3 linked regions of the Homo sapiens genome follow. Changing the gene in region 1 together with any one later gene gives a genetic interaction. Each region holds a gene or a part of one and is shown on either strand. Other genes may lie near its edges. The genes, in order: MGAT1, C1GALT1 and TRPC6.

Evidence for each region.
Region 2: of MGAT1 (region 1) and C1GALT1, changing one enhances a phenotype caused by changing the other (phenotypic enhancement), as found in Homo sapiens cells (one study listed by BioGRID).
Region 3: of MGAT1 (region 1) and TRPC6, a change in one rescues a mutant of the other (synthetic rescue), as found in Homo sapiens cells (one study listed by BioGRID).

What each region holds. Positions count from the first base shown.
Region 1 is NC_000005.10:180,785,799-180,792,909, reverse strand, and holds part of MGAT1 (alpha-1,3-mannosyl-glycoprotein 2-beta-N-acetylglucosaminyltransferase), read left to right. Parts: coding exon 1-1,276; 3' UTR 1,277-7,111. UniProt on the Homo sapiens protein: Initiates complex N-linked carbohydrate formation. Essential for the conversion of high-mannose to hybrid and complex N-glycans.
Region 2 is NC_000007.14:7,227,533-7,234,643, reverse strand, and holds part of C1GALT1 (glycoprotein-N-acetylgalactosamine 3-beta-galactosyltransferase 1), read right to left. Parts: intron 342-7,111; 5' UTR 325-341; coding exon 105-324; intron 83-104; exon of another isoform or gene 1-82. UniProt on the Homo sapiens protein: Glycosyltransferase that generates the core 1 O-glycan Gal-beta1-3GalNAc-alpha1-Ser/Thr (T antigen), which is a precursor for many extended O-glycans in glycoproteins.
Region 3 is NC_000011.10:101,468,960-101,476,070, forward strand, and holds part of TRPC6 (short transient receptor potential channel 6), read right to left. Parts: intron 4,815-7,111; coding exon 4,550-4,814; intron 3,374-4,549; coding exon 3,178-3,373; intron 2,428-3,177; coding exon 2,224-2,427; intron 543-2,223; coding exon 468-542; intron 1-467. UniProt on the Homo sapiens protein: Forms a receptor-activated non-selective calcium permeant cation channel. Probably is operated by a phosphatidylinositol second messenger system activated by receptor tyrosine kinases or G-protein coupled receptors.

The sequences.
Region 1 (7,111 bases):
TGCCCTGCTGCTCCTCTTCTTCTGGACGCGCCCAGCACCTGGCAGGCCACCCTCAGTCAGCGCTCTCGATGGCGACCCCGCCAGCCTCACCCGGGAAGTGATTCGCCTGGCCCAAGACGCCGAGGTGGAGCTGGAGCGGCAGCGTGGGCTGCTGCAGCAGATCGGGGATGCCCTGTCGAGCCAGCGGGGGAGGGTGCCCACCGCGGCCCCTCCCGCCCAGCCGCGTGTGCCTGTGACCCCCGCGCCGGCGGTGATTCCCATCCTGGTCATCGCCTGTGACCGCAGCACTGTTCGGCGCTGCCTGGACAAGCTGCTGCATTATCGGCCCTCGGCTGAGCTCTTCCCCATCATCGTTAGCCAGGACTGCGGGCACGAGGAGACGGCCCAGGCCATCGCCTCCTACGGCAGCGCGGTCACGCACATCCGGCAGCCCGACCTGAGCAGCATTGCGGTGCCGCCGGACCACCGCAAGTTCCAGGGCTACTACAAGATCGCGCGCCACTACCGCTGGGCGCTGGGCCAGGTCTTCCGGCAGTTTCGCTTCCCCGCGGCCGTGGTGGTGGAGGATGACCTGGAGGTGGCCCCGGACTTCTTCGAGTACTTTCGGGCCACCTATCCGCTGCTGAAGGCCGACCCCTCCCTGTGGTGCGTCTCGGCCTGGAATGACAACGGCAAGGAGCAGATGGTGGACGCCAGCAGGCCTGAGCTGCTCTACCGCACCGACTTTTTCCCTGGCCTGGGCTGGCTGCTGTTGGCCGAGCTCTGGGCTGAGCTGGAGCCCAAGTGGCCAAAGGCCTTCTGGGACGACTGGATGCGGCGGCCGGAGCAGCGGCAGGGGCGGGCCTGCATACGCCCTGAGATCTCAAGAACGATGACCTTTGGCCGCAAGGGTGTGAGCCACGGGCAGTTCTTTGACCAGCACCTCAAGTTTATCAAGCTGAACCAGCAGTTTGTGCACTTCACCCAGCTGGACCTGTCTTACCTGCAGCGGGAGGCCTATGACCGAGATTTCCTCGCCCGCGTCTACGGTGCTCCCCAGCTGCAGGTGGAGAAAGTGAGGACCAATGACCGGAAGGAGCTGGGGGAGGTGCGGGTGCAGTATACGGGCAGGGACAGCTTCAAGGCTTTCGCCAAGGCTCTGGGTGTCATGGATGACCTTAAGTCGGGGGTTCCGAGAGCTGGCTACCGGGGTATTGTCACCTTCCAGTTCCGGGGCCGCCGTGTCCACCTGGCGCCCCCACTGACGTGGGAGGGCTATGATCCTAGCTGGAATTAGCACCTGCCTGTCCTTCCTGGGCCCCTCCTTGCCACATCATGAGCTGAGGTGGGACCACAGTCCCCAGGCTGCATCGGCCTGCCTGTGTTTCCCTCTTAGGTGCATTTATCTTTTTGATTTTTCCGAGTGGCATTTAAGTGCACAAATGATAACAAGAGGATTATTCTCCCGTTCTCAAGGGAGTCAGATCAGGGGAACTATTCTAGGGTATGTTGCGGGGTATTAAGCAGGAAACCACTGTGTGGTGGGGGGCACTGGGCTTGTTGGGGCCAGAAATGTCCACGTCCTGAGCTTTCTCCTGGAGCATGTGCAGAGAGTTTGGCAACGTTCGCTCTCTTGACCAGACCCCTTCTCCCTGACCTGGCTCTTCCAGCCAGGGCACGAGCCCTCCTTCTATACCTGCTCCCCTTCCCCCAGTGGGGACTGAGTTATGGGAGAAGGGGACATATTTGTGGCCAAAATGATACTAACCAAAGGGGCTTCCTTGTCAGGGCCTGGTGGAGTTGGTGGGTCATCGGGGCTCACTGCCTCCTGCCCTTCTCTCCTGTCTGACCCCCACTTAGCCCTTCTCTCCTTGCAGCCTAGCAGTTTATAGTTCTGAGATGGAAAGTTGAAGGGGGCAAGCAAGACCTCTCCTCAGCCCATGCCCAGCTGTCAGGAGAGAGGTGCAGGGAGGAAGGCCTTGTGCTGGGACAACCTCTCTCTTGCCTTACCTCAGAGAGGGACTATGCCCTGACCCCTCCTTTCTGAAAATCAGTGCCCTCCCTGTTGCTCTAGGAGGCTCCTGCTGGCTTGGTAGAAGACAGAATTCGATCTGCCTGTCCCTTTTTCCCCTGGGGTTTGACACACAGGCTCCTCTCAGCATGAGGTGGAGCAGTGACCAGGTGGAGCAGTGACCAGGACGCCTCTGGCCCAGTGCTGCCCAGCCTCCCCGCCCGCTCCCAGGCGCCCCATGTCCTCACAGGCCAGGACGCCATGGCAGGATGGAGAGGACTTGGTGGATTTTTGTTTCTTGCCTGACCTCAGTTTCATGAAAGAAAGTGGAAGCTACAGAATTATTTTCTAAAATAAAGGCTGAATTGTCTGAAAAATATTTATGTGTGTGTGTCCTGGAAAAGGAGGTGGCAGGCAGGGAAAGAAAGGAAAAGGGAGAATGAAGAGTTAAGGAGAGGGCTAGACGGGTGGGAGGAAGCAAAGTTGAGGAAAGAAAGCAGATGAGTGGGAGGGAAGAGCCAGGGACAGCCCAGGGGATGGGGGCCAGGTGGGAAAGGAAGTCCAGGCCACAAGGTGGAGAGGAGCCCCGGACTGTGCTCCTGCTGATCGTCCTGTAGAGCCAGGAGGCCGCAGCAGGAAAGCTGGTGAGTGTCTCCTGCTTCTGCCTCCTGCTGGCTGGGCAGGCCTGGTCTGGGGAAGAACCAGGTCCTCTGATCAGGGTGGTCCCTGAGTGGTGCTTTGTGCCCGGTGCCCTCTGCTGGCCCAGGCAGTGCTTATTGAGTGCCCTTTATGACGTGCCGGGGAGCCTCAGGGTACACAGCTGATACCAGGGTTGGCCTCACAGTGGCGCTTGGACTCCCAAACGCAACCCCAGTGAGAGTGCCTGTTTTGCTAATACCCAGAACACAGACAGACTGTTACCTCTGCATATCACGTGCAACATTCTGAGAGTTTCTGTTCTCCACTAATTCATTTAAAAGAACAAAACGCGGCCGGGCGCAGTGGCTTACACATGTAATCCCAGCACTTTGGGAGGCTGAGGCGGACGGATCACGAAGTCAGGAGTTCGGGACCATCCTGGCCAACATGGTGAAACCTAAAAATACTCTACTAAAAATACAAAAACTTGCTGGGCATGGTGGCACACACCTGTAATCCCAGCTACTCAGGAAGCTGAGGCTGGAGAATCACTTGAACCCGGGAGGCAGAGGTTGCAGTAATCCAAGATCATACCACTGCACTCCAGCCTGGGCGACAGAGCAAGACTCTGTCTCGGAAAAACAAAACGCTTTTTGTGACTCACGAACTTGATTTCATGAGTGGGTTTGAAAACCCTGGGCTAGTCCAGGCGCGGTGGCTCACGCCTGTAATCCCAGTACTTTGGGAGGCTGAGGCGGGTGGATCACTTCAGGAGTTTGAGACCAGCCTGGCTAACATGGTGAAACCCCATCTCTACTAAAAATACAAAAATTAGCTGGGTGTGGTGGCACATGCCTGTAATTCCAGCTACTTGGGAGGCTGAGGCAGGAGAATTGCTTGAACCCGGGACGGGGTGGTTGCAGTGACCTGAGATCGCACCACTGCACTCCAGCCTGGGCGGTAAGAGCGAAACTGCGTCTCAAAACAAAACAAACCAAAAACCCTGGGCTAGGCAACTTTCTTGGCAGAAACTACTTTGGAGCTCGACACCAGATGGTGGCAGAGTTGTCTGGGGAGCTGTGTCGAGGGCCGTGGCCTTGGGAGCAGCTCCAACCTCCCATCTGGGCTCAGAAACCAGTGTCAGACATTGGTTTTATTTTAACCTTTGAGATTTGTGTGGAGCGGGTTTTGCCTTCCCCTGTTGCTTAGATGGATTATTTAGCCATATTTTTTGTTAAATAAGGGGAGGTGGTCATTATCCGTGATTTCAGACGTGGAATCGGCCCGGCGATAGCTGCATTGTGCCCTTTCCGGTGGAGCCAGGAGGAGTTTGGCCGCCACGCTCCATGCGCATAGCATGTCATGCAGCTAGCCAAGTGCATTGTTCTGAGTGCTCCAGGATAAGTACCAACTTACTTAGTGCTCCAGGATAAGTACCAACTTAGTGCTCCAGGATAAGTACCAACTTACTTAGTGCTCCAGGATAAGTACCAACTTACTTAGTGCTCCAGGATAAGTACCAACTTACTTAGTGCTCCAGGATAAGTACCAACTTACTTAGTGCTCCAGGATAAGTACCAACTTACTTAGTGCTCCAGGATAAGTACCAACTTACTTAGTGCTCCAGGATAAGTACCAACTTACTTGATCCTCAGAGCAAGCCTAGGCGGTGGGTACTGTTTTGCTCCTGTTTTACCAGTGAGGAAGCAGGCACACAGAGGTGAAGTTGCCCAAGGTCACACAGATGGTTGAGGGAGAGCCGGATTGGAATGAACTCTGTGCTGTTAGCCACTGTGTGAGGCTGGACTGTTCCATTCCAGCCTTTACGGCCTCTTCCAGGCCATTCCCCAGCTGCACTTGGATTCTCAGGCCAGGCACCGGCGGTCTCCTGTGAGGGTGGAGAGGAAGAGGGGGCTGCGTGGCTCGGGGAGGTCCAGGAGAGATGGCGGGAGGAGTAGAGTTTGGGGCCTGCGGTGCCAGAGGACCCCCTTACAAGACGAAAGACTGGGTTCTCAGGCTCCTGAAGCAAGGAGCACCTTCAGGGGTCTCCTGGTATTCACCCATCAAGGCTTGCTCAGGTGGCATGCGTGTGTGCGTGGCGGCTGCCCCCGGGCCCGGAAGCGCCTGTGGATACCAAAGCAAGTGGAAATGCCAGATGGAAAAGCCCCGTGTTAGTCAATGCTGTAGAGTTCAGCCAGCCTCGAGTTTGCAGGTTTACAGAGCTGCCTTGCGCCTGGCTGCTGCTGCTGCTGCATTCCTGCTTCTGCCTCCAGCTGTGACCACCTCCTGCCACTCCTGCTCTCACTGTGGGTTCCTGCTCACTCTGTCTCCAGGACAGACTGCCTTCCGGGCAGCCTTCCCTCCTCAAGCCTCTTGGCCTTTGCAATCCTCTTACCTGGGTCACTGGTGGGATCTCATTTGTGGATCAAGTCGCCCCCAGTGGAGACAAATGTCTGATGGAGTCTGGCCAAGGCCCTCCTGAGCCTTCACTGGGCCCTGCATGAGAAGCCTGCCAAGGCTGAGGGGCCAGGGAAACGGAGACGAAGCCCTCAGAGCAGGCCAAGAGGGTGGGAGGTGGGGGGCATTTAGAGGGTTAGATACAGAGCACCCCTTTACAAATACCAGCTACTGGCTTTTCGTATTACATGTTCATTTTAGATACAACATACTGCACACGCTCCCTTAACGTGTGTTTACGCGTGGGTGGTGTATCCTTCCAGACGTCTTCCTCACATCTATACATAATATGCATAGATAAAACATTTACCACCAAAACCCATAGTGTTATGTACATATTTGTCTGGCTGTGTAACTTTAAATAACATACAAATGTATAGAACAGAAGCTTGCCCTCTTTCTGAAATATCTAACGTGGGATTTCAGGCTTTCTGATGAGACCTCTGTAGAGGTCAGTGTTTTGCCACCAGAGGTCCTTCAGCCTCCATCTGTTCTCCCACCTACCCACATTCTGGCCCCTGGCAATTCACAGGGAGTTTAGGAAGTAGACACCAGGGCCCTATTTCCTGGAGACCAGCCTGGTGGCCGATGTCATAGAGTGCGGTGGGCCTGGGCCGGCCCTGCTCTGGGCCCGTGACCTGCGTGTCTGACTCGGGTCCAGCTGTTCTTCCTGCCAGAGCCTCTTCCTGTGAGGCGGGGGTAACACAACCTTCTGTGGTGGCTGTGGGATTAATCCGTATGGCTGCATTGTGAGTAAAGCCTGGTGGAAATCTCTGTCTCCACTGCTTTCCTTTTCCTGCTGTTCACCTTGGCTCCCTCGACACTTAATCCCCCTCCACATGTGTCTGGAGCGGGCAGAGCGGGGGCAGTTGATAGAAAGGGGGCCGGGTAGTGCCAAGGCTGTTACTTTCCCCCACTGCCTCCCTTGGCTAACTTGAAGTCTGACCCTTTATACCAGAACTGTAAGACAGTGTGTCAGAATGGATTCAGTTGCAGAGCAGGAAGCCTGGATCCCAGCGCCGGACGGAAATGAGAGGTCGATGGTGCAGGCTGGTGTGGGGGTTCCTCCACCGTCAGGGCCCAGGCTCCTTCTCAGGTCTCAGTCTCACTCTTCTTAGCACGAGGTCAGGTCTCATTCCTTGGCTGCGGGAGCTCCAGCCAGCACACGTTTTAGGAAGAAGGAGGAAGGAAGAAGGTAAAGGGTGGATGGCAGCTGCCTCCTCCTCTCTTGGAAGCTCACAGAGCGCTGGGTCACAATTCCCTGGGTAGAACTGGATCACACAGGCACCCCTGTCAGCAAAAGAGGCTGGAAAAAGTATTTCTGAAGCTGAATCAAATTAAGATTCCTGTTACTAAGAAGGGAGTGATTGTATGGGCGACTACAGGGACCACGGCCATACACGGTGCCTGGAAGACCAAGCTTGTGACAGTGACGAGGATTTGGAGAGGGCAGGGTGATGGGGAGCTTTGGGGGGAGTGCATTAGGAACCCTGACCTGGAGAGGGGCAGAATGAAACCTGCGGGCCCCTAACCCTAGTGGGTTGTTTGAGAAACCTGTCCTACTGTGGCAGGGGGCTGAGTCTTCTCAGGGTCATGCATGAAAACTGAAATTCCTGAAGGCCACACACAGCCCCGGAAGTGCTGACTGACAAGGGCACATGCCAGTGATGCAGTTTTCTTTTTTGTCTTCACTTTTGTTGTTCCGCCGTCTTCAACACATGGCTCCCAGCTCACAGCAAATGCTGCCCTGGTTCAGCTACCAGGAAGCAGGAGAGGGGAAGGGAGGGCAAGCCTCATTCTTTATGGAACAAAAGCAGTGGGCAGACAGCCTTCCCTCACGTTCCACTCACTGGAATGTGGTCTGGCTGCCTTCCCTGCAGGAGGTGGGATGCACCCTCAGTGCAGCAGCCCTGCCCCAGCCAAAAACGTCTCAGCACAGCTGTAAGAAGAGGAAGATGGCTAGAGACAGGCAGCCTTCCCTGCAAGGGCAATGAGGCAAGCCTGCCAAAAGCCTCCTTTGGAAAT
Region 2 (7,111 bases), on another chromosome or scaffold:
TCTGGAATATATAGCCCATTTTAATTAACAGATACAGACAGGAATATGACAAAATTTAGACTAAAATACTGCTTATGTTTACTGCTTAATAAAGTAAACCATACCTTTATGTTGGCTAGAATCTGCATTGAAGTTCATTTGTCCTTCTAGATGATTCTGTCCATTATCATCTGAATGCCTTGCATGAGGATCATTATGAAGAACATTAGGCTGGGTGTCAACCTTTTCTCCCAACAAAATACTAAATAGCTGAGAACATAAAAGAAATCCTATTGCTGATCCACAGAGGAAGGTTAAAAAATTCAGCCAGGATTTAGAGGCCATTTCCCGAAAGTGTATTTCTGTAAGAACAAAAATTAGCAGGATGTTATAAAATCAAAGCTGTATACATAACCGGAGTAAAAATTCTGGTAACATTTAGCTATAACGGAAAGTTAATTTCTAACAGTATTTAGCTATTATCTATGAGTTTACCCCTCTATTTGCTGCTAAAACAGCACATTATGGAAAATCCATAAAACCAGATTAATTAGTAGGACAGTCACAGTTGGGGTGGGGTATGGATGAGTATGTCAGTATTGCACACAGAATTTCCTATTCTTCCCACCAGGATCCTTTGTGGATCCAGGGCTTCCTGTCGTGTTGTTTTTCTTTCTTTGCTGTTAACTCTGAGTACGGAAGTCTACTTCTTTTTCTCTGGTAGCAACCACCACCCCTTCTCCAACCCAAAAGTTAGCAAACCCTTTCTGTAAAGAACTAGAAATAAAATATTTTTGGCTTTTTGGGTCTCATGTGGTTTCTGTTGCATCTTCTTCTTAAACAATCCTTTATAAACGTAAAAAAACACTTGTAGCTTGTGGAGGACTAGGGTCAGCACAGTTTGAGGACCCATGGACCAAACCTGGCCTGCTACCTGTTTTTGTAAATAGAGTTTTATTTGAACACACCCATGCCCATTCATTTATATACTGACTGCGGCTACTTTTGCCCTAAAACAGCAGAGTGAATAGCTACAATAGAGGCAATATGTCTCACAAAACCGTACCTAGCCCTTTATAGAAAAAGTTTGCTGGCTAGGCACAGTGGCTCATGCCTGTAATCCCAGCACTCTGGGAGGCCAAGGCGGGTGGATCACTTGAAGTCAGGAGCTTGAGACCAGCCTGGACAACATGGTAAAAAATTAGCTGGGCATGGTGGCATATGCCTGCAGTCACAGCTACTTGGGAAGAATAAGGTGAATACTTGGGAAGAATTGGTAAGAATAAGGTGGGAGAATCACTTGAACTCAGAAGGCGGAGGTTGCAGTGTGCCAAGACTGCACCACTCAACTCCAGCCTGGGCAAAAGAGTGAAACTATCTCAGAAAAAAAAAAGAAAAAGTTTGCTGACCTCTGCTCTATACTGCAAGATCTAGATTTTGGATGGAATCTATAATATTAACGAGATTAAGTAGGGTACCTGGGACACAGATGCCTGTTGAACTGCCCCACAACCAAACATTGACATAAACGCCCTTTTTAAGCTTTTGTTAACAATTACTATATGGTGAAGTTATAAACTTCTATTAAATTCCTTAAAAGATTGGTCTTAACTCTAGTTTCCTATTCCTCAAGATAATTAAAAAAATAAGTTTACTAAGCATTTATTATATACCAGAAGCTGTCCATACATTATTTCATTTTAAATAAAATTTAATTTCAATGTCCTTTTTCATTCTCACTAAACCCGTCTGCAGATGAGGAAAGAGAAATTTTAAAAAGGTAATTTTAAACAGGTAATTAATTCATATAGGCTGACACAATCAGAAGGAGCCACAGTTTGAATGTAGGTCTGTGTGCTTAAAAAGCCCATGCCCGGCTGGGCGTGGTGGCTCACGCCTGTAATCCTAGCACTTTGGGAGGCCAAGGCGGGTGGATCACCTGAGGTCAGGAGTTCAAGACCAGCCTGGCCAACATGGTGAAACCCCATCTCTACTAAAAATACAAAAATTAGCCAGGCGTTGTGGTACGTGCCTGTAATCCCAGCTACCTGGGAGACTGAGGCAAAAGAATCACTAGAACCTGGGAGGCAGGACTGCAGGACCGAGATCATGCCACTGTATTACAGCCTGGGTGACAGAGCAAGACTCTGTCTCAAAAAAAAAAAAACAAAAAAAAAAAACCCACGCCCTTTCCATTACATTTCTCAAACTCTTCACCTAATCACCACTAACAGCAGAGGGCAATGGGCAGTGAAAGTAGAGGTCTGGGAAATATAACCCTAAAAATCAAAATTGCTTTGAAATAGTTTGTGAAAGCAAAAGTACAAACCAACAATCACCACTACAATAATAAAAACAAAACAACTTCATGTATTTCTGGAATGGCTGACTAGGTTCTTTTAGTACAACCAAGTGCAATCAGAAAAACTGAACAAAATGTAAAAAAATATAAATATGTGTTTGAAGACACTGGTAAGATATCAAGGCAGTGAGAATTAGTAGGGCCAAAATCTGGAAGAAGGAAGGAAAGAGGCAGACCAGACATCTGGCACTGCTCTATCCTCAAGACAATGACTGATTCTGAAAGAGAAAACAGCAAGGGCAATAAAGCTAAGCAAAAATTAATGTCCAAAGTCTGCTTAGGAGAAGAGGTCCTGAAAAACACCTATGCTCTTATCAAGGACTCTGAAAGGCTACAATCTGAGAATAAGAACAAAACAAAAATAGACCAATCTTTACAACGGCTGAAGTCTACGTTAGAGTCATCTCAGCCACTGACTGGATGATCCGCCCTAGCCTAACTGTAAAAATATTCTCCTGGAGAAATATAAAATCATGAAGAACCTCAAATTATCATGACGACTTTTTTTTTTTTGGTATACAACATGGACAAAATTTTGATACACAATGTCCAAAACAACCAGGCATCAAGATGAAAATTACGGCTAAACACAAAAAAGTAGACAATAGAAACAGAGCCAAAAGACTCAAATAAGATTTTCATATTTTTAGCTTAGAAATAACTATTCTTAATAAAGTCAAGAAATTAAATGGCAAGATTAAGAAATTAGGCATAGAATAGTCACAGCTGAAGAAAAAAATTAATAACCTAAAAAGCTAGGTCAGAAGAAAATACGCAGAATGAAGTATGGAAAAACAAATGGATTGAAAAAGAATTGAGCAAAAAAACAGAATAAAGTGAAAGGGTCTAATGTAAGTGTTAACTGGAACCTTTGAGGGAAGAGACATAACTCAGGAGAAGTGGTATTTAAAGAAATAATGACTGAATATTTTCCGAAACTGACACAGTACCAACCCTCACATTAAAAATCTACAAAACCCAATGAAGATTACAAAGAAAAAGAAAATGTTACCTAAGTACATCAGTCAAACTACTGAAAACCAAGGACAGAAAAAAAAACTTCAAAGGTGTAATAAGATTGACAGCTGACTTTTTAGCAGCAACAACAGAATCAAGACTGCAGTGAACTATTTTTAAAGTGCTAAAAGAACAGAACTACCAACCTAGCATTCTGTATCCAGCAAAAATGTCCTTCAAGAATGAGCCTTAAAAACATGTTCAGAAAAACAAAACCTAAGTGAATTTATCACTAACAGTTCTATTTCTAATTCTTCAGGCAGAAGGAAAAGAATTTCAGATAAAAATTCAGAGATGTAGGAAGGAAGGGAGAGTCATAAAAAGGGTATGTATGTAAGTAAATCCAAATAAATATTGGCTATAATAAAACATTTTTTGAAAGTCTCACAAGATATTAGTATTATTACCATTAAAACAAATTACAAAACTGGCATCAAAAAGTATAAGGAGGATCCATAGAGTTTAAGAGCTCTAAAGTCATTTCACTGTCCAGGAGTTGTTTAAAAAAAAAAAACTGATTAATAATAGCCTTTAAAAGACCAAGGATGTCTAATATAATCTTTAAACAAACAAACAGTAAAACAATATAATTAAATTCAAATACAAAAAAATGAAATGGGAAAATACCCCAAATCAAGGCAATGTTAAAAAAAAAAAAAAAAAGGGAATATAGAATAGATGAGACAAATAGAAAATAAATAGTAAGGTGGTTGATTTAGAACCAAACATATCAATGATTATATTAAAAGCAAATAGACTAAAAACTACAATTAAAAAATAAAGATTGCCAGCCAGACTCGAGAAAAATAAACTCATCTACATGCAGCTTACAAGAGACACATATTAAATAGATTTATAAAGTTGAAAGCAAAATAATAGAAAAATATACCATACAAACAGTAATTAAAGGAAAGCTTATTGATACCACAAAAAAAACTAGTAGTTACATGGCTTGTTCTCTGTGACATTCATTAAGCTCTACATTTATGATTTTACATACTTTTCTGTATTAACATTTATTTCAGTAAAAAGTGTATACAAAAACCCATTCATGTGTCTTTATCCCATTAAGTACATACTTAATATATTCATATTTGATATAAAAATATCCCAAAATCTACAAGTAAAATTGACATGCCATGACAACACACCATGCTTATGCTGCATTATATATCTTATATTTCAGGCTCTCTCCTGAATTGTAATTCCAGTTTGGGAAGAAAAACCCTAAGAGGAAGAGGAGAGGTGAAGGAACAGCACAGTATAAGCAAAGCTGCCCAGTATCTTGAGATGTAAATTAACCATCTGAAACTATCAGATACATGTTTACACCTTTTGCTCTATCCTGACTGTACCTTCAAGTTCAGAAAGGTAGGCCTTCATGGATGATGAGTACATAGCCCCACTCAACGATCCTTCTCTCTACACCCAATCAAATTTGCCACAGGAAAACCAGAAACAAGTTTACCATGTCTTTCTGCTGTTTTCTCTGATGAGGGGGTCTCAAATTCTGCCTCCCTACTGCCCCCTTTCCCTCATTCAGGTTGGCCGTTAGTGTAATCTTTATATCCAAAAGATACAATAAAACATATCCCTCCTGTCTTAAGTGATTGTTCTGAAATTCTAAATATCTCGATTGTCTGAGGACCAGTTCATTAGACCTTGCTCTAACCAGAAATCTTGGTTTGAAATTTCATTCAAACAGCCAGAGAGAACTGATTAGTCAAGTATCTGTTCGATATTATACAAGTCCTTCCTTTAGCAGTATACATGATCAAGACAATCTACAATAGAGGTATGTGATATGAAAGTACCATGAATTGAAAACATGAAGCCAAGAGAAGTAAATGAAAGATGTTTTAACTCTTAATTTCTTATGGAGGAAGACAAGCAGAATACGATTGAAGCAGTGAACCTGGAGCATTAGCAGATACTGAGTTGTCACTCTCTACATCCTCTGATTCTCTCACTAACACTTTGCCTTACAGCACACTGATCTTGGTTTTCCATTGCTTTTTGTCCTAGCTGTGATTTTGCCTTAATACCATACACAGCCACTTCACCATCTCAGAAAAGAACAAAGACAGTATTTTACTGCTGCAGAGTCTACCGCTCCTGGCACTGGAGAAGAAAGCAGTAGTCACAATGCCATTCAGTACCACTTAGGCAGAAAGCACTGTGACTGAGAAGAGGAAGGACTGCAGGACCAGAGAAAATTCCTATTTCTATCATCATATGGATATCTGAAGTTAAAGAAGTGCTAACCCAGCTCCATCAACTATGAATACTAACATGCTACTCAATCATATTCCAAGGACATGCTGAGCTTCAGAACAAGCCTACTTCTATAACACAAAAACAGTTACTGTTTGTGGAAAGCTACTGAAGTACTTATGGACACAGTTTTTCTTAGCTGAAGAGGCACTTTTTAAGCAAGGCATCTATCCTGGAGTGAATGTAAGGAAAACTGACTTCTTGGTGTTACGTAATTGTTTTTAACTTTAAAATGTTTTGTGATGCTGTCTGATGCCTGTCATACTCTCTTACTCTTCTCCCCCAGAGTATCAGCACACTCAGAATGTGTTGGCTCCTCTTGTGTTGTGTTTACCACATTCCCTTCCAATTTAAAGGACTCCGGCCTTATGACTAAATAACTGTAAACTCCCATTTTTTTTTTTCCTGCTCCTGGGATAAAATAGCCATCTCATGGGGGTAGAATGCATCCCAAAGCTCACTCAGATTTTTGGCAAAAATCATGTCCACAAGAGTGTTGAGGTAGACTAGACTGGAAAAAGACACAGCTTAACCACACTGCACATTATGAGGGCTTAAATACTATTTCTTTGAATTGGGTGGGGGAAGTTCTTTATGCCAAGTGCTTCCAAACCTGATGTGTAATCAGAATCGCTTGAGGATATTTTAAAAGTACAGATTTCCAAGCTTGACAACTGAGGTTTCAGATACAAAAGAACTCCCGGGACAACTAAAATTTATATTTTAATTTTATTTTTAAAGGGACAGCTTTATGCTATTCATTGTTAAAAAAGGATTTAGAAGGAAGAAATCATCACAAGTCCTACTACCCAGAAACAACAATTATTAATATTTTGTGATTATCATTACAGGTTTCTCTCTAGCAATAACAAAAATAGGAGAGGTAATTACAGTTAACATTTGAACCCTGTACTAAGAGCATCTGCAAACTATAAAGTACGGACTAGTATTCCCATTTACAGATGAATTCAGACACAGAGAGTCACACTAGCAATCTGAATCAGGAATTCAGACTCTTAACCACTTTGCTATTATGTCTTAGTCCATTTTCTGGTATTTATAACAGAACAACTGAAACTGGGTAATTTATAAAGAGAAAGCATTTATTTCTTACAGTTACGGAGGCTAGAAAGTCCAAGGCCAAAGGGGGCACATCTGGTAAGAGCCTTCTTGCTGTTGAGGACTCTCCTCTGAAGAGTCTTGAGGTGGCACAGAGCATCACATGGCATGAGGGATACGCATGCTAACGTGTTAGCTTAGGTTTGTTCCTCTTCCCTTTTTTTTTTTTTTTTGAGACGGAGTCTCGCTCTGTTGCCCAGGCTGGAGTGCAGTGGCGGGATCTCGGCTCACTGCAAGCTCCGCCTCCCGGGTTCACGCCATTCTCCTGCCTCAGCCTCCCAAGTAGCTGGGACTACAGGCGCCCGCCACTACGCCCGGCTAATTTTTTGTGTTTTTAGTAGAGACGGGGTTTCACCGTTT
Region 3 (7,111 bases), on another chromosome or scaffold:
GATAGATCTCTAGAGTACATTGTTCATTATACACGGTGTCGACCACAATAGCCATTAAGGTCCCACAGTGCCTTTTTCCATCGCTTCTTGATTATTGACAAATTAGGAGGCACTGGGGACCATGCCTGCTCTCTACCTGAGCTGCAAAGAGTGAAGTTAATCATACCCTCCATCAGGTTCCTGACAGAATATTCCCTTCTTTATATCACCAGTCTTCTATTCCATCACCATAAGTATATATATGTGCTTAGTATATGTCTTAAATGTACATGCTATTCTTTTTTGCTTATCAAACATAGCTTATTTCTACCTCTCAATAACAGAATTGTTGAGATTTGTTAAAATAGTTGAATTATTTAATGGGTCTGTTCTCTACTTGCTAAAATTGCTTCTGAACATCTGTCCCTTTCTTTGAAAAGATAAGCCCGATCATGTGCATGACTTCATATTTTCAAATATGAGCTTACCTGTTTTTTGTCAAGTGATAATTTTGAAAGGTCTTCATGACTTCCTAAAATTCCAAGTTTCTTTTCTTCATTTATCTTTTAAAGATAGATAGTAAAATGAGTATAACTGCATAACCAATTTCACTCTTCATTCTGTATTTTAAAAGCCATTTCGTCTAATTCTCCAACAAGTTTTAATGAGAGAAACATATTCTTACGGGGTTCTTCCCTTTGCAAGTGCTTGCTTAGACATTTCCTTTGGACTCTGAATTCCCTCAGGTTGCAGTTCTAACCAGACCTGTAAACCACCCATTTAATTAAGTAAAATAAAGGAAGGGAAATTTTTGCCACTCAATCCACTGAGTTCTGTAAGTTATACTTCTGGAAGAATATCATAGATTGTATTTTTTCCAAAATTCCTACACAAATTAATCATAATCACATTTAAAGAAAGCTTTAAAATTCTCAAAGTACTTTTATATACTTATTTGAGTTGATCTTCAGGATGTAGATATAATTTTTTTCACATATTACAGTTGAGGAAACTAGAACTCAGAGAATGTGCTACTTACTTGAGCACCCTAAATAGTAAATGGGAAACAGTGCAGGAATTACAACATTTTCCTTTTATTTAATGATAGAATCTTATTGCAAGGAAACTTTATAATCATTTGGCCCAATTGCCCACTCAGTGTAAGAAGGAAAAATCTTCAATACATTCCCACTGTCAGCCATCTGGCATTTATTGACTTCTTACAATGGTGGGAGGCTCACTACTTCTAAAGGCAGCCCATTCTTCTGTTGGGCAGATTTTCTTATTAAAAGTTTGCTCTTATATCGAATTAAAATTTAACAATTTGAATTTTTGGCCCATTGCTTTTCTTCCCATTTTTGAAAAACAAGTGTACTTCCTAATTAAAGATGGAAATTACAAAGATATTTTTAGTCACTTTCAATCTTCCTTTTTCAGAAGAAACAGCCAGCTCCTTCAGTCCTCCCTCATATGACACTTTATCCATATGTGTTCCATTCTGGTCCTCCTCCTCTGGATACACCTGGTATCTCAGTGCTCCTTCTGAGTACAGAGGTCTAAATGCTCAGCAGAGATCTTTGCATAGCATAAGCCCTCACCTTCCACCTCCAGTGAGACACAAATTCCACATGTTCTCTAAACATATCTGAACATGCTGTGATCGCCCTACTGCCTCATCTAAGCACTAAATCTTTTTATTTTTTTTAAAGATTGCATCACCTTGTGGGATTACTGTTTTCAATCAATGTCCTTAGCTCTTTCTTTCTTGAACTACTTATTGCCAAGCCTGGTCTCCCAAATTCTATGTGAGCAACTGATTTCTGAACTTTTCAATGTAGAAGCTATCTAAGAGTTAATCAAGTTGCCCCGCCCCCCCCCCCTCCCCGAGTCATAACAAGCTGCTGCCGATTTACTGGGCTGTATAAATTGTAGGAAAAGTGAGGGACATGTAGCCATAACAGCAAAAAAGCAGCCCAGAATAGTTCTTCTTTCAGTACCCACTCCAGATAACATATTATTTTAGTTATATTTCATGAATTTTTCTTACATTCTTTTAAGTAGGAAATGTCCAGTGTGCTCATGTTGAACAGACACAAGCCAAAGGACTGTGCTGTGTGAAGTGACTGCATATGGGAATGAATGGATGTGTCATCAGGAACTGCTTCTCTTTAAAGGGATGTGGCATAGTGGTTACAGTAGTCACAAAATTTAAGAATACAATGATAACTTATCAAGCTAAGTTACCTTGTTCATCTCTGCATCTTCCTGGAAACCTTTTTTATGGCCCTGGAACAGCTCAGAAATCCATTTTTTAAGCTTCAGTAAGAGATAAAACAGGGACTTTGGACTCGGCACCAGATTGAAGGGTACAGGAAGTGTTCTGCCCTCCTCAAAGTAGGAAAACCAGAGTTTGGCCCTTGCAAATTTCCACTCCACATCAGCGTCATCCTATACAAATACACATGACAGTTCAGCAAGGAAATGCATAAACAGAATTACTGGGATGCTTTTAACATTGTGTAGCTAGATGGAGGACAATGCCTATAAACACTCTCAGACCCCAGTGATCGTTCCAAGATTTTTTCAAAATGTTAACATTCTATTCACATATTCTTTCTTAAATTTGTCTAAAATTTTGACAGTCTTGCAAGACTATTAATCTCCAAGTTCCCATGTGTTTATAAATACCTGATAGATATAAATGTATTTTCCTACTTTCTGAAAAATGCTATGAAAAATTATTCTCTCTTTTATTCTGAAATATACCACTCATTTATTTGGGACACAGATCAAGATTTCTGGAATAAAAATTTACACTATTAATCTCAACTTGAGAAAAGGTCAATTTTGAATATCACTCAAAAAAGACTTGGAGAATGATGGTATTCATAAGCAATAATTTTTTGAATAAAATATAAATTCATGCTGATATAGTATTTCTAAAGTTTTTTATTAAATTAGTATCAAATCAGCATTTCTGCTTCTTATGCCTTACGTCTCTGCCCCATGACACCTTACTGATGTTGCATTTGGAAGCAAAGAGTTAAAATTTTCCAGATTACTGGTCAAACGAGTGTATAAAACAGGGAATGAACAAAGGGCGAAGAGCAGTCCATGCTTTCATCCCCATTGCTGAGTTAGCCCTTGGAATAGTTAAAACATGAAGGCACAAATTATAAAAATGTATTGAGATTATACCTCAATTTCCTGGAATGAACTGTTGATCATGGCAATTAACATATTTAGCAAAACAATGACCATCGTAACATTATAGACTCCATAAAGAACGTAACCAATGTTTTCAATGAATTTGTGGTTATAGTTGATGACCACTGATTTCACTTCAGAAAGTCCAAATATAGCCCAGAACAGTGTCTTAAAACTCTCTTCAACTCTGGGGAAAAAATAACAGAAGAAAAGAAATAAGAAAGTGTATAAATAAATAACAATATTACCATAATAAAAGTGAGTTTGTTTAGTGTCTGCAAATTAGTGAGTATAAAAAAAATTCTTCACTTCTCTGAAGCTCACTTTTCTTTTCTGTAAAATGGTTACAATAGGATTGCTGCAAGGATGGGGTAATATTGTGCATATGAAGTACATAATCATAGCTCAATATCTAAATACATAAGCACTCAATAAATGCTATTAACATAATTTCATAACCACAGATATGAACACTTAATCCATAGCGTTGGCAATGGAATTGTTAGAATCCTTTTAGGTTTCCTCCTGATCTATACTTCTACTCATATCCAATAGATAATAATCATATACATCTTAATGGAAAATACAATATAAACAGACAATGTTACCAAAATCACTGACATGTCTTAGGTAGGAATTTCAATGCTTTAGGCCTAATTATTGACCAAAGCTAAGCCAGTTTGCTTAACTCAGGTGGTTTCACTTCCCTGGCAAACTGTATTTTAGAGAAATATGGAAAACAGTAGGCTTACATTTCAGTTGTTGCTTCTTATTATAACACTGAAGACCTAATATTTAAATAATCTATTCCAAACACACTTTATGAAAAAAAAAACACGTGTCCATGGTGAACATAAGTCAAAACTCTTGCCACTATTGATAAGTCATATCTACTCAGTGATAAGATCTGAGAAATTCAATTAGGAAAGTAGCTGTTTTCATAGTTAGCATCCCCAGGAGTGAGTCCCCTGTAAGCAGGAGGGTAAGGGAGTTTAGAGCAACAGACCCTAGAGTCAGCAAGCAAGGGTTACAGCCTGGCTTGTTCCACACACAGCTATGGAATATTCAGCAAATTACTTAATTTTTGTGAATTTCAGTTGCCTCTTGGTGAAATAGAGATAATAAAGGGAGGCATGCAAGGTATTTACCTGGCTCTAAAAATGTAAGTTATTATTTAATATTAGAAAGCTTCCTATATTTTAGAGTCCCTCCAACTCATTTGTAAAATCCCCTCATTTTGCAAAACAGGAACTAGAGATGAAGTCTTTACCAAAACATTATCCCATGGACTTACATAAACGCTGTTAAACTAATATTTATTTAATTTGCAATAACTATCATCAAAATATCTGAGATCACATACGTTGTGAAGGCTTCATTTTGTTTTGCACCAATGTAGTAGGAGTAGAGATTGAACATTCCAATCATAAAGGCCACAAACACCATAATGAATATGACCATGAACTTGAAGATGTCTTTGACTGTTCTTCCAAGTGATATCTGCAGAGGTCCAAAGCTTTCATTTGCTGGTAAAATATAAGCTATCCTAGAGAAACTTAAAACTACAGCAATTGCATAAAGACCTTCAGATATTATTTGAGGATCAGAGGGGTCCCACTTTATCCTGGCTAGGAAAAAGCAAAGACAAAGAGTTGTGTGAGTTTCTTCAAGTTTTTTATTTAGGTAACTTCTTTTTCTGCGAAAGAAATATAGTTATGTTAGAATCCGGTTTTCGAATGGAAGTCTCCTATCTTAAAGGGCTTCTTAAGTGTCTGCTAGAGTTGAGCTTCTTAGTTTATTGAGAACATGACTCTCCTGGTTTACTAGCAATTTCCCATAAGGGGATAGCATAATAGTTAAGAGTTCAGACTATAGACTCAGTATCTGTAAAAATTCATGTATGTATGTACGCACACACACGTATAACAAAGAACTTATGCAAACTACTTCTCTAGTTTTGTTTCCCCATTTTTGAAAATGAGATAATATCCCTTCTAACTCTCTTGTCTTCGTGAGAATTCAGTAAGTCAGCATATGTTCAGCGTTTAGCAAGTGCCTGGCACTTAATAAATGGTAGCGTTTATTATTCAGTCTTAAACTATAATTACACTATAATATAATTTTAGGCTTGTAGCATATTTGTAGTCATTTAAATGTATTAGAAGTAACTTTTATTGGTCACTCAAACAAGTCTATTTTTACCATAAAATGAAGCAATTATTCACTTATGGATTTTTTTGGCATTATTACATCAGGTCATCAAAAATGCAACTAAGAAACCATTATGAAGAAAAACACAAAACAGTGTGTAAGAAAGGGGAAAAACATAATTACAAATTTGTATTTGCTTATTTGCTGAGAAGTGGAATTAGGAGAGGATAACAAGAAACTAATAAAAGCAGTTTCCTTTTTTATAGTGCTTTGAATATAAGTATTATCTACAAATAGCTTTGAATTTTTTTAATTAAGTGCATTTTAAAAAATCTTAAAATTAAACATTAAAATAAACATTAATAATAATAATGGAGGCCTTATGTGATATTGCCAATAAACTCACAAGTGAATGTTAACTAATTTCTTATCAGAGGGTTTGAAATGAGTATTCAAAGGGAATATATTTTCCCCATCCAGGTTTCTACGAGGTGGTAGTCTCCTTAAGTACATAACTGGACCAATTTCCATCCCTTAGTCACTTTCTTCCTGGAAAGCTGGAATGACTTATCTGATTGCTAAATTGGGATGAATAACTGGACATAGTTAGCTCGGCATTACCTTCTCTCTCTTGGGAATTCTCCTCTGGTCCTCCATGGAAGATCTCACTTGATCGGGCACTTGCTGCCATCCTCTTTTTGTGAGGAGGACTGCCCTGGCCCATTGCTATCTAGAAACTGGAGGATATGTCTGCCTAATTCTGGGGTTCAGTATTACTGAATCCATTAGCTAATAGAACTATGTCATCCACCCTGGATTTTATCAGTGTTAGAGGTGATGATCTGGCCTCCATATTAATTTCTTGTTTTATTTCTCAACTAATTCTAAGCCTGGTTGGGAAACAGTGGTGTTATTGATTGGGGAACCTCTCAGAGATCCCAACAATTCCTTCGTTTTCAAATACTTTTTATATATCTTAAATGAAAATGGCACTCAAATGTGAACTTTATTATATATATCTATGGGGCACAACTTGATGTTTTCATATATGTCTGTCTACACTGTGCAAAGATTAAATTAAGCTAATTAACATATTCATCACCTCGAATATTTACATTTTTGTGGTAAGAACATTTAAAATTTACTCTCAGCAATTTTCAAGTATACAGTACAGTACATGATTATTAACTCTAGCCACTATACTGTATATCTCCCTTATTATAAGCTTATTACAAGCTCCCTTATTATAAGCTCTAACTAATAAGTTAGAACTTACTCATCCTATCCGTGTACCCTTTGTAAACTTTGTACCTTTGGCCAACATCTCCCCATTTTGTGCCTTTTACCCCAGCCCCTGACAACCACCATTACCTTCTACTTCTTTGAGTTTGACTTTTTTTAGATTCCACAAATAAGTAAGATCATATACCATTTGTCTTTCTGTGCCTGCCTTATTTCACTCAGCATGATGTCTTCCGAGTTCATTCATGTTGTTACAAATGACAGGATTTTCTTCTTTTAAAAGGTGGAATACTATTCCATTGCACATATATATACACACACACACATGTGTGTACATATACATATATACACGTGTGTGCATATATACACACACGTGTATATATACATATACATATATATGTATACAGAGAGAGAGATACAGAGAGATAGATCAAACGTGAACTATTTTTAATTAAAAAAGAGGGAAAAATAAATCCAGGACATAAGACATGTATTCTCCATGAAGTTTGATAAGTAGCCAATTGATCCAAGA